Homo sapiens: one gene and its partner. The protein of the gene in region 2 purifies or fractionates together with the protein of the main gene of each other region. This does not show direct contact. Each region holds a gene or a part of one and is shown on either strand. Other genes may lie near its edges.

Region 1 (3,653 bases), on a different chromosome or scaffold from region 2:
GTGGCCTAATCAAAGGGAGTCCAGAAGCTATTTTTGGATAATACATAGGAGGTAGAGCAACCTGGTTTTGCCTCTGGTTATCATTTGACATTGCCAGTGTCTTACTTGTTCATATTATGGGGAAGGAATCGAGTGGTCACAGAACTTTTGGAGAAAATTTATCAATTTTTTGTTTACTTTGTAATGCTTTTCTGTTCTTATTTAATAAAATATGCCTTTCGATTATATTAATTTAAATTTGTATATATTGAATTGATTTAAACTAGGATCCTTTCCCCCTTTCTCTTTCAGGACTTGACCCAATGAAAGAAGCATATGGCACTTGTGAAGATAAATGTTACTCCTCCCTTTTTAATTGGAACTTCTGCTTAGGACCTGTGTATGACGTTTCACCTGTGATCTGTTCTTTCGGTAGCCACTGACTTTGAGTTACAGGAAGGTCTCCGAAGATTTGTGTCAAATGACGTCAATGGCCAGCTTGTTTTCTTTTACTAGTCCAGCAGTAAAGCGATTGTTGGGCTGGAAACAAGGTGATGAGGAGGAGAAATGGGCAGAAAAGGCAGTTGATGCTTTGGTGAAGAAACTAAAAAAGAAAAAGGGTGCCATGGAGGAACTGGAGAAAGCCTTGAGCAGTCCAGGACAGCCGAGTAAATGTGTCACTATTCCCAGATCTTTAGATGGACGCCTGCAGGTTTCTCACAGAAAAGGCTTACCCCATGTTATATATTGTCGTGTTTGGCGCTGGCCGGATTTGCAGAGTCATCATGAGCTAAAGCCGTTGGATATTTGTGAATTTCCTTTTGGATCTAAGCAAAAAGAAGTTTGTATCAACCCATACCACTATAAGAGAGTGGAGAGTCCAGGTAGGTCTTATTCCTGAGAAGAATTTGGAAAAACAAAAACAAAAAACCTCTCTTCCTGATATGCATGTAACTAGATTTAGTAATGAAAAGGTTGTATTAGCTTTGTGTTTCCATCTTAAATATTCTAATCTTGGAAGGGCTATTGGATTTTGAGTTTAGCTTTTTATATGTAGGTGATACAATTCTCAGGTGGCTTACTCTAATTCATTATTCACTGTAAGCACCCATATATCTACTCTGCCTTTTCCTGTGGATGACCTGTCTCTGTTTTATTTAAAGCCTAAGCTCCAAGTGTGTACTATATCCCATTCCTTTTTGTCAAATGAAGAACTTTGTTCCTACAGTTATCATCCTTCTCTCCAGCATTATATTTTCCCTTTCTACCAGAGTATTTCTGATAGCATACAAGCATGCCATGATACTACCCATCCTAAAATAAAACTTAAAAAAAAATTCTGCTTTTCACTTCATTCACATAACCCAACCCCAATCACTGCACTGTTTCCACTGGTCCTTTTAGAGGATTCTCCATTTTTATTATCTTTATGTTTCATTTTTTTCTTGTGACTTCTCTAGTTAGTCTTTCTTTCCTACCATTTAACTTGTCGAGATCACTAGTGACTGCCTTTTTATAGGTCAAGGGGTCATTTTTGAGTCTTATCTTACTGTCCGCTCAACTGCATTTGATACAGTTGATCTCCTTCCATCCTACTCAAAACTTTTTCTGTGTTTGGCCCCTAAGACAGTATGCTATCCTGGTTCTCCTACCTCACTGACTGTTCTTGCCCCTCTTTGCTGGCGTATTCTCCTGTTTTCACAGGAGTCAGTCCATGGACCTTTTCTCCATTTATATTATTTCTTTATGTGCTTTCATGCTGTCACATGTCTTAAGATTGTCTATAAGCTGATGCTCACATTTTGAACTCAAGTCAACTTCTCCCTTGAGTTTTAGATTTGTGTATCCAGTTGCCTACTTGACATTTCCACTTGAATATTTATTTATTAAACATACCAAATGTAATATGTCTAAGCGCAGTTTTTTTTCTCTGGTTTCCCCTATTGAAGTGAATGGCAACAGCATTCATGTAATTGCTAATGCCCTAAACTGCAAGGTCATCTTTTATTCTTCTTACTTAAATCCTATATTTAAAATATGAGCAAATGCTGTTTGCTGCACCTTCAAAATATGTCTTAATAAATATGTCACCTCTCATCATTTGTGACATCACTACTTTAGTACAGTACATCATCATCATCACTCACCTTAAGTAGTGTCCTAATTGGTCTTTCTGCGTCTCTTCTTCCCCTTAACCCATTGTGTTTTCCACACAACAGCCAGAATGATTTTTTAAAAACATACTAAATCATGTCAGTTCCTACTGAAAACACTTTCAAGGCTGTCACACTTAAAGAGATTTCTGTAAGACTCTGTATGACCTATCCTCAGAGTTCTCTGTTCCTTGGACTTGCCATACTCCTGTTTCCAGGCTTTAACTCTTGCTGTCTACTTATTCTCCCCCAGGATCTTTCCATGGCACATTTTCTCATTCCATTCAGTCCTTGCTCAAATATCCGCATCACTAATTGACTCTATATTAGATATTTATTTTGTTTATTGACTGACATGAGCAGAGTCTTCCTCTATTTCATTCATTACTCTATCCTTAGTGCTTAGAATAGTATATTGTTGTCTGGCACTTGGTAGGTGATGCTCAGTAAATTTTTTTTATAATGAATGGTATAAGCTGAGCTGCTAGCTGAGTGCATTAGTCATCTATTGCTGCATGACAGATTGCCACAAACTTAGTGGCTTAGCACAATGCATGTTTATTACCTCACAGTTTCTTTGGGTGAGGAGTCCAGTCACATTTAGCTGGGTCCTTTGCAAGGCGCTGTAATCAAGGTGTTGGTTAGGGCCAAGGTCTTATCAGAAGCTCAATTAGGGAAGGATCTGCTTCCAAGCCCATGTGATTGTTGACAGATTTAGTTGCTTTCACATAGCCTTCTTTATAGGTAGTTCACATTCATGACAGCTTCTTCAAAGCCAGTAAGGAAGAGAGGGTCTTCTGGTAAGAAGGACATTATATTCTTGTGGAATGTAATCATACATACGCTGTCACCTTTGCCATATTCTGTTGGTTAGAAGGAAGTGATAGGTCATACTCATACTCAAGCAGGGAGAATTACCCAATGGTTTGAATACCTGGAGGTGGGAATCACAGTGGTTACCTTAGAGTCTATCTGGGTTTCACGTGGAGATGTGTGGTAAAAAGACTGAAAATAACATTGGATGTGGAGACTAGTAGAAAGGATAGCAGATAGCAGTGATTATGCTGTCTGTGAAAGTTCAACTTAAGAGCTTTAGAGTGTCTTTAGACAGTTGGTATGATATGATTCTCAGTTTCTTACTGAGTCCAAGGAAAGCTGATAGCTGAAGGAACTGATGAAGAAAGGAAGATAAAAGGATTTAATAGAGAAGTATAGGCTGAAAAACTCCCAAGCTTGCTATTTGCTAGGAGGGAGTCTAGGAATTTTATGTATTCCCCTATAGCCAAAGTGTGACTAGTAGTCAGCCAGCCAATAGAAATGTCTTATTTTTTGTATACATTTTTCTCAGCTATGATTCATTCTATAGAAAAGACTGGGGCATAGCTCTGATACTTTTAAATAACGGAAAATTTCATGTCTTACTAGTTCAACTATTGGAAAGAGACTATAGAGACCTCATGTTTCGCCCTGAGCCCAAACTCTTGGGGGAAGGGGCAGATTACCCAGCTAGATTAGCTTGCT
Region 2 (3,653 bases):
GGTTCAGGGAGACTGCCCTTGAAGAAAGACCTGGGGAAGTTAGGAATGAGTTACATGAACACTGGGGGCCAGGGGAGCTTCCAGATAGAGGGAACAGTAAGTGAAGACACCCCTGTTTCAAATAGGAGGCAGGCCGCATGGCTGGTACAGAGTGAGCATGGGAGGGTAAGGGGATAACAGCAGAGAGTTAGAAGGGCAGGGCCTGGAGAGGCCATCATAAGACCTGAACTTCTCTGCCAAGTGCACCAAGAAACCCAGGTGGAGGGGCCAGGAAGGCATCTGGGCATGGGCGTCTCAAGATTAGGTCTGAGCTAAAGATGGAAATTTGGGGGTCAGCACAAGTGTAGAAAAAAAGGCTAAGAGTTTGTAAGATGGCGCCTTAGGGCATCAAGTGTTCAAGTAAAGGAGACCGTGTGGCTCAGTGAGGTGAGAGGAGAACCCCATGGTCTCAGAAGCTGAGTGAAGACAGCATTTCAGGCTGTCCCAGGAGTGGGAAGCTGTTCAAGAGGAGCTGATGGCTCAGTGCACATCATATTTGTACATTTCTTCCAGGAAAGAGAAATTGAAGATGCAGATGCAGGAGGGAAAGAGAATTGCAGGAGGAGGGTCCCGAGTACTGAGGGGGTCTCTCGCCCGCACTCCGTGCCTATTGACAGGAGAGCAAGTAGCATATGGGTGCAGATGCCTGTGTGCGTGGGTTCGGTGGGCGGGGGGGGGGGGGGACTTTGGCAAAGACTTCTTCCTGTTTTCTCTTCTTAGTGATGAAATAGGAAGCCCCTGAGATGGCGGGGCTGGAGGTGAGGGTGCGGGTGGGCAGACAAGAGGAGATAAAGCAGTTCAGTCGTCGAAAGGTGTGGTGGAGTGACTCCCTGCACTGTATTAGAGCAGTGATTCTCAAGGAGTGGGCCAGGGTTTGGGGTCCCCAAGATTGTTTCAGGTGTTGTGTGAGGTTAGAGCTATCTTCATGATGTATTAAGAAGGTTTTTCATCTTTTCCACTGTCATTCCCTCACAAGTAGACAGTGGAGCTTCCCAAGGTGTGATCTTTCAGCAGCAAGCATAACAAATGCTTGAGAATCCCGTTGTCTTTTAAGCAGGACGTTGCAGAATTGTTAAAACAATGCCATTGTTGTCACTGGATTTTGTTTTGTTTTGTTTTCGGAAGTATAGTGATTTTTTTGGTAAAGGTATTTGTGTTAACGTGTAATTGATTTATTATTTTTGAGTGAATATTTAAAATTTTTAAATCTCAGTAGATATTACGCGTATAAACAAAAGTTCTTTGGAGTCTTCAGTAACTTTTTAGCGTAAAGGAGTTCTGAAACCAAACAGTTTAAGAACTGCTGGACTACAGAAATATGATATGACTAGCATTGTTATGGGTCTCAAAGGAGAATTTGACTAGAAATCAGAAGAGAACAGTTGAAAAGTAGCTGGTTTTGAACCTGACAAAATAGTGGCTCCATTAATTGACTAGGGAAGTGAGGGGATGGAGATGGGTTTTCAGAATGCAGATTTGGGAATGGTGTGCTGGGATGTGCTGGTGAGCTGCCCACAGCATCGGAGCCAGGTTGGGAGGCATCCACTAAGAACACGTGATTGAACACATAGGAATGGGGATGGTGGGGACAGGGAGGTGGGAGTGTAGAATAGGAGTGGGGAGCAAAAACCGAGTGGTGGGAGTGACCACATTTAGAGGGTGGAATAAAGGAGCAATTGTCAGGGAAGACCCAGACACAGGCGGGGAGGATCCATGGGGTTGGATGCTGCAGCGGGCGAGTTTGACCTTCTGTCTCTGCGAGATACATCCCTAGTTGGTCTCCAGTTCCATTAGCAATTTATTGCCACTTAGAAAACACAAGATGTAGATTTATTAACTTGAATTTTAAAGAAGCAAGTAGCAGTTAAGTGAAAAAATATGTAAACACCTTAATAGTGGCTGTGACAGCTTATTATGGCTATTAGGTAGATTAAATCATCTGCCTCAGCCCTAAAGTTGGCCTTAAAGTTGTTGATGAAACATGTTTTGTTTTCCTTGTGGCATATTACTGTTAGCTTTAGCAGGCTTATTTCAACTGGTTATTGTAAACGCTGCTTACTAGAGACATTTCTCTTGTTTCTTTCAGTAACTTGGATCCACTTACAGAAACTGTATCCTTTTTTACAAAAAAAAAAAAGTTGAATGAAGATTTACTGAGAATAAAGAAAACAGAAATGAAAGGAAAACAGAGGAGTACTGAAAAGTTTAAAAACTTGTAGGTCAGGAAACATCATAAGCAACACTGAAAGCAATTTTAAAAAGTGAAACTGAGAACAAGAGTTGTCTTAGATCTGCTGACAAACTGTTAATATCATGACTTGGTAGAAATCTGTAACATCATAGCTCCCCTGCCAACCTTGCCCCTCAGGAGTCAGCATGGCTGTATTCACCAGAAAGCACAGTGACTTCAGCAAGGTGGCTGCATAGTCTCCAGTGTGAACAAAGTCTGGAGATAAGCAGTCCCAGGCAGGTGATGCTTCCATGAAGACACCAACAGCCAGGCTCTTTGCAGTTTAAGCACTCTACCCCTCCCAGGGTGGCCGTAACCTTGTTCCAGATGTTGCCACAGCAAACAGCATCACAGCCATGTTTCCGGCAGCAGAAACAGCAGAGGGGGAGGTGAGGGTGTTCTTCCCTTTTAAGAGTACCTTTGGGCCTGTACTCCCAGCACTTTGGGGGGCCAAGGCAGGCAGATCACGAGGTCAGGCGTTCAAGACCAGCCTGGCCAACATGGTGAAACCCCGTCCGTCTCTAGTAAAAATACAAGAACTAGCCAGCCGTGGTGGCTCACTCCGTAATCCCAGCTACTTAGGAGGCTGAGGCAGGAGAATCGCTTGAACCAGGACCCGGGAGGCAGAGGTTGCAGTGAGCCGAGGTTGCAGTGAGCCGAGATCGCGCCACTGCACTCCAGCCTGGGCTACATGTAGAGCGAGACTCCGTCTCAAAAAAAAAAAAAAAAGGAGAGTACCTTTGGGAAATGCCACACAGGCCCGCTCTGTCTCATTGACCAGCACCTGTTTCATGCTTCACCTGTCTACTGAATCCTATCTAGAGTCCAGAAATGTGCCCTGCTTTATAAATTGGGACTTGTTACTAAAGTGAAGGCTTTGAGGTAACAATGAACAGTGTCTATTATTGTCCTAATGGAAAAATGGGGCAAAGATGTGAAGATAGGATACTGTGGTTATGCTGCTGTAACAGATAACCCCACATCTCTAGTGGCTTACAACACAAAGTTCGGATTCTGTGTTATGCTCTGTATCTACTGTAGGTGGGTAGGAGGGTTCTGCTAACCGGTAATTTATCAAAAGAGGGCATATAGGAGCTTAATGAACGTGTTAAGAGTTCAGTCTCATCAGTCAAAAGACATGTAAACTAAAACCAAAATGAGATGCCATATTTTATGTATCAGCCAAGATTTTAAAAAATGATAAACCTCAGTGCTGATGATGGTGAGGTGAGAGGAACATTCTCATAAATTGCTAGTGACAATATAAATTGCTATTATCTTTCCAGAAGGCACTTTGGAAATAGTAATTCCATTTCCTGAAAGCTGAAAATAAGAAGAAATAGAGGCAGTTTGTCAGTGGTTGACAAAATAAGGCCCATAGGCC

What was found. Proteins that work in one complex are often made in the same cells at the same time.
Region 1: the proteins of NAA20 (region 2) and SMAD5 fractionate together in Homo sapiens (co-fractionation; one large-scale study listed by BioGRID). This does not show direct contact.

What each region holds. Positions count from the first base shown.
Region 1 is NC_000005.10:136,153,301-136,156,953, forward strand, and holds part of SMAD5 (mothers against decapentaplegic homolog 5), read left to right. Parts: intron 1-291; 5' UTR 292-460; coding exon 461-863; intron 864-3,653. UniProt on the Homo sapiens protein: Transcriptional regulator that plays a role in various cellular processes including embryonic development, cell differentiation, angiogenesis and tissue homeostasis.
Region 2 is NC_000020.11:20,020,331-20,023,983, forward strand, and holds part of NAA20 (N-alpha-acetyltransferase 20), read left to right. Parts: intron 1-2,125; coding exon 2,126-2,150; intron 2,151-3,653. UniProt on the Homo sapiens protein: Catalytic subunit of the NatB complex which catalyzes acetylation of the N-terminal methionine residues of peptides beginning with Met-Asp, Met-Glu, Met-Asn and Met-Gln. Proteins with cell cycle functions are overrepresented in the pool of NatB substrates.